Regions from separate parts of the Homo sapiens genome. Here region 1 is linked to region 2. The links come from fine-mapping of genetic effects on gene expression. A gene starts in region 2. The other region holds a variant in brackets. All regions are shown on one strand. Distances are between the middles of the regions. Region 1 overlaps MOB1B (MOB kinase activator 1B). Region 2 holds the start of MOB1B (MOB kinase activator 1B).

Evidence for each region.
Region 1: its variant is fine-mapped to the expression of MOB1B in blood mononuclear cells (TOPMed, PIP above 0.99). The same link has a PIP of 0.9 or more in non-classical monocytes and whole blood.

Annotation. Positions count from the first base shown.
Region 1 is chr4:70,950,284-70,953,195 of GRCh38, forward strand. The region is part of intron 1 of MOB1B (MOB kinase activator 1B); the gene reads left to right. Among named protein-coding and RNA genes, the nearest start is that of DCK, 42 kb to the right of the region's middle. The variant T/C (reference allele first, on the strand shown) is at 1,710.
Region 2 is chr4:70,900,708-70,903,619 of GRCh38, forward strand. It overlaps MOB1B (MOB kinase activator 1B), which reads left to right and starts at 1,662. Exons shown (of 6, transcript NM_173468.4): 1 at 1,662-1,843. The coding sequence starts at 1,830. LOC124900711 (a long non-coding RNA gene) reads right to left here and starts at 1,524. Exons shown (of 2, transcript XR_007058132.1): 1 at 1,242-1,524. RefSeq lists silencers at 1,482-1,631, 1,942-1,991.

The DNA.
Region 1 (2,912 bases), 50 kb after region 2:
AAATTAGCTGGGCGTGGTGGTGGGTGCCTGTAGTCCCAGCTACTCAGGAGGCTGAGGCAGGAGAATCGCTTGAACCCAGGAGGCGGATGAGCCAAGATCGGGTCACAGCCCTCTAGCCTGGGTGACAGAGCAAGTCTCTGTATCAAAAAAAAAAAAAAAAAAAAAAGAATGGTCTTTAGAGATTTAAATCCTGGATTTAAATTTTGGCTCCTTAATTTACCACTTTTATAATCTTGAGCAGAGTATGTAAGTACTTTAAATCCTTAGATTTGTCATCCATAAAATAAAGAAAAATAATAGCTTGTATATCAGAGTTACTAGGATTAAATGAGATATATTGCATGTAAAATAGTTGCGAGTACAAAGCTTGCGGTAAATGTTAGTTAATATTAATCATCATTATTATCCTGATGTAGGAGTTCTCAGCCTGAAGTTGACTGGAACTTTCAGTTAACAAGTATTTATCGAATACCTGATCTGTAGTGTTGGACTTAGACCTATGGAAGGAGCTACTGATGTGAATGAAAGGTTAGTACCTAGAGGCGGAGCAGAGAGAACTAATAGTAGTGAAGTTCTTAACATAAGTTTCAGTAGTAAGGTAGGTATTATTATCTCCATTTTGTAGACGAGGAAGCTGAGACTCAGTAACAGTAACTTCTTCGAGACCCTGGTTCTGTCATTTAGCTAGCTGTGGTTAGACTAATAACTCACTTAACCTTGAAGAGATGGAGCTGTTGGCACAAATACATGATTTGTAACACAAATCATTTATTTTACAATCATTTGTGTGACAAATAATTTGCTTTTAATTTTGAATAAATTTACATATTCTTCAGTGTCAATATATAGGTATCTGGTACAGAAAAAAAATAGGGGTAATACAACAAAAACAAAAACTGTTAGGAACTGGGCCTCACAGCAGGAGGTGAGCAGCCAGCAAGCAAGCATTTCCACCTGAGCTCTGCACCCCGCCAACCCCTGTGGAAAAGTTGTCTTCCGTGAAACTGGTCCCTAGTGCCAAAAAGGTTGGGAGCCACTGTTTTAGAGTCTCAAAGAGAAAATAAATGATACTGAAATTTGCAAAAGATAAATCAAATTGGAAGACTAAGAGATATGTATTCAGAGCTATCTCTAGGACTGAGTTGTTTACTAGACAAATCACCCTGTCCTGCTCTAAAAATTGATTTGCCTTCAAATATGAGTAAGAATGGGAAAACAAATGTGAATATCGTGGATGTTTATTTGGAAAGCAGTAGAGTAATGCAATGAATTATTAATGTGATACCTCTAATATGTAATACATCATTCACATTCTAGTCAGCATTCCATAGTGGCTGAGCATGGTGGCTCAAGCCTGTATTCCCAGCACTTTGGGAGGCCAAGATGAGGGGATTGCTTGAGCCTAGCAGTTCGAGACCAGCTTGGACAACAAAGTGAGACCTCATCTCTAATAAAAATACAAAAAATTAGCTGGGTGTGGTGGCGTAGTCACAGCTACTCAGGAGGCTGAGGTGGGAGGATCACTTGAGCCATTGATCATGCCCCTGCATTCCTGCCTGGGCAATAGAGCAAGACCTTGTCTCAAACAAACAAAAAAACAAAGCACAACATTCTCCATAGTTATGATGCTGTGTTGGAAGCTGTACAAGAGAAATTAGCAATCTAATACCTGTCCTTTAAGACTTTCGTACGTTGTGGCTGCTCCCATA[T/C]GTTGTTAATGGGATTGTAAAAGGGTACAATTTATTTGGGGAAAAAATAGGCACTATATAAAATTTAAAAATGTAACTGCTCTTTAAAACAACAGTTCTAGGAATTTAACCTTCATACATGCGTACACACAAGGATGCTTACTGCAGTGTTGTTTGTGGTAGCAGATGACTGGAGGAAACAATCTAAATGTTTTAAATAAAGGACTGATCAAACTATATTATAATATAATATATATAAGGAAATACTATTTCAGTCTTTAGAAAGAATAAAGTAGATTTACTTGTATCTTAAATATAACAGTCTTCTGGATATGTTAAGTGAAAAACATTATTAAGTACACTATGCTACTGTGTAAAAGCAAATAAAAACAGGCACAAAACTTTCTAATGCCTGTAATCCCAGCACTTTGGGAGGCCGAGGTGGGCGGATCACGAGGTCAGGAGATCGAGACCATCCTGGCTAAAATGGTGAAACCCCGTCTCTACCAAAAATACAAAAAATTAGGTGACCGTGGTGGCGGGTGCCTGTAGACCCAGCTACTTGGGAGGCTGAGGCAGGAGAATGGTGTGAACCCAGGAGGCGGAGCTTGCAGTGAGCCAAGATTGTGCCACTGCGCTCCAGCCTGGGCGACAGAGCGAGACGCCGTCTCAAAAAAAAAAAAAAAAACAAAACAAAAACAAAAAAAAAACTTTCTAATGCTTATACCAGATACTAGAAACTGTAATTTCTTCTGAGGTAGGTGGGGTAAGAGGGCAGCATACTTTATGTTTTTGAAAATTTTTGTGAAGATTTGTATTTGTATGTCTTAAAATATGTGAGATGTATGCATTTGGGCATACAGTGTTGCTACAAGAGCTTGTACTCACTGATGAGGACTTCTGTGTACATGCTTGGGTATTTATGCTTTTGAATTTGAAGACTCTGTCATTTTGTCATTTGGTCTTTTTTTTTTTTTTTTTTTTTTTTTGAGTTGGAGTCTCGCCCTGTCGCCCAGCCTGGAGTGAAGTGGTGCAATTTTGGCTCACTGCAACCTCCGCCTCCTGGGATCAAGCGATTCTCCTGCCTCAGCCGAGTAGCTGGGATTACAGGCGTCTGCCACCATGTCCGGCTAATTTTTGTGTTTTTAGCAGAGATAGGGTTTCACCATGTTGGCCAGGCTGTTCTTGAACTCCTGACCTTAAGTGATCTGCCCGCCTCATCCT
Region 2 (2,912 bases):
TTGCACCACTGGACTCCAGCCTGGGTGACAGAGTGAGACTCCGTCTCAAAAAAAAAAAAAAAAAAAAGAATTATACAGTAAGTCAGTACCATATCAATATTTGGAGCACAGGGTTTTATACCATAAATCTATTATTTTCATTCAGATAAATCCTCCTCTTTCTTCTTTTTGGGGAATCTTTTAAAAAATTTTTAATTTAATTTGAAGTTCCAGGATACATGTGCAGGACGTGCAGGTTTGTTACATAGGTAAACGTGTGTGCCATGGTGGTGTGCTGAACCTATCAACTTATCACCTAGGTATTAAGCTCTGCATGCATTAGCTATTTATCCTGATCTGGTAATCTTTTGAGTCTGTAAGTTTTCTCATTCCAGTAACCTCTGCTGTTCCTGAGATAGTGCAAGATTCTAGTATTTTCTTCTATTAAAAAATTTTTTTTTTGAGACGGAGTCTAACTCTGTCACCCAGGCTGGAGTGTAGTGGCATGATCTTGGCTCACTGCAACCTCTGCTTCCTGGGTTGGAGCAATTCTCCTGCCTCAGCCTCCCGAGTAGCTGGGATTACAAGTGTGTGCCACCATGCCCGGCTAATTTTTGTATTTTTAGTAGAGACGGGGTTTGGCCATGGTCTTGAACTTTGGCTGGTCTTGAACTCCTGACCTCAGGTGATCCACCCACCTCGGCCTCCCAGAGTGCTGGGATTACAGGCATGAGCCACTGCGCCCGGCCTAAAACGTTTTTTTTTTTTTTTTTTTTTTTTTTTTTTTTTTTTTTTACCACTTTACCAACGTGCCAAATAATAGTGCATATATGCAGTATAATACATTTCATATCTGCACCTACTTCAAAGTGTATTCTGCCCTTTGGGATAAGCCAAAGGTGAGCTAATATCTGCACATGATTTGTTTTGCTCAGATTCTCTTTGAAAACTTGTAGATTTGATGGGTGTTGTGAGTAAAGAAGACGGACATCTCTTCGATACCCGTATTTCCCTCCTAAATTGGTAATGCTGTGGTGACATATTCAAGGTATGTGAAGGATTCTTAAACAGAATATAAAGGCTTGCCCTGGGCCCCATAACCCTGTGAGAATAAAAGTCCCTTTGTAAGTGGGTCTGAATAGCTTCTAGCTTCTAGGATGTTCTGTGCATTAGAATGCTTACAAGCTTTGGCCCCCTAAGTGGTTACACCGATGACCACCCTATCATGCTGGGTTCCGTGGTGAACTGAGAGATGCCATTACCTTTCACCGCCCTTGGCCGGACACTCACGGTGGGCCTAACTCCGGTGGTAATTCCATCCCTCACTGCGGGACCTTGACATCCCCGAGCTGAAGCCCACTTCCTCCCTGACCTCTGGAGCCCAGCTGAGCGGCTCCGAGAGCTCTGCCATGACTCCTAACCGGGTGGACAGGGGGGCCGGGCAGCCGCGGCGCACACGCTGGGCGTCGTCCCTAGCAGCAGAGGAGACCAGAAGGTGAGAGTCCCCATGCCGCAGCCGGAGGGCCGGGGTGGGCTTGCACCGCTATCGCGAGAGCTCGTGAGGTGGGGGCGGCGGGGAGCTGGGGAGGGGCTCGCGGAGAGCCTGCCCCGCCTCCCTTTCCTTCCCCTCCCCTGGAGTGATTCAAGACGAGCGCTACCCACTTCCGCCCCCTCCCCCTGCCATTGGAACTAGCTGAGCCGAACTAGTTGCGGCCACCGAGCAGCCGGCTCTCGGCACCTCCTCCTCCGCCTCCCTGTCTCCTGTTCCATTCGCCTTTCCTCTTCTTTCCTGGCCCACGCCGCTCCGAGGCCTCGCGACCGCCGAGCCTGCAGCCTGCCCCGCGGCCAACATGAGCTTCTTGTTGTGAGTAGCCAGGCCCCGCACGCGCCGGCTTTGTTCGGGTGGACCTGGGCCCCCGCCCGCCGCCCGCCGCCCGTCGCCCGCCCTCGTCCCGACCCTCCTGGCCCAGCGCTCCCGGGGCCCGGCGTCACCACCAAGCGGGGCCCCGGGACTGCGCGGAGCGCTCGGACTACCTAACCGCCGCCTCCCCATAGGGCTTCGAGTACTCGTGGGCTCCTGCAGCCCTGAGGAGGTTCTTCCCCCCCGGCACACCCCGGGGCCAGCGCCTGGATTCCTTCATCACCCCCGTCTCTGCCTTCGCTCGCATTCCCGGGCTTGTTTGTGCGCTTCTCGTGGGTATCTCCCACTCGCCTGCACAATCCGTATCCAAGCGGTGCTCGGTTGAATGGCTCCGTCGCGGCTGCCCATTGCTCTTTTCTGGGTCCCAAGCACAGAAGATAAGACTGTCGTACTTTCCCCTGTCATCCCAGGACCCTTTTAACTTCCTCTCTCGTCTTAGGGCTGGGAAGTTGGGATGACAAGTTCTGTAGATGTAACACTGAAACAAGGCTACTTGCGGGTCGGGATCCCTTGGACACAGACGGGGGTCCCTGAGAAAGGGGTCTGGAGCCGCCCCCTTGCTTCCTAGAGGCGCCCTTCCTCCCAGAGGACTTCCCTGAAGAGGATGAGTTTTATCTTTTTAGACAACCAGCAAATAGGTTTTGGATAGTGTGCCCTGCCTAGGTTGATTAGGTCCACTGGGGAGTTGTTTTGAAAATCATTTGTAAATGCCAACTTTGGCGTCATGTTTAGTGCTGGTCATTATTTCACTTACTTATCGTTTGTTCCAGACGAGTGGAGGGGAACGTGGAGGGGGAAGGGCAGAAGGATGGGATGGCCAGATGTGGATATGGAGGCAGTAGATAAGCCTCAGGTCCTCTGAAAACAGGGGTTACAGCCTGAGGAATAACTCCTTTGAAGGCTTCGTTGTGATGCACTCATTCCATGTTTAGTCTGTGTTTAGAAAACTAATAAAAAACTTAGAAGTTGAAACTCACCCATATACTGTTTTACTGTTGTGGAGAAATTAGCA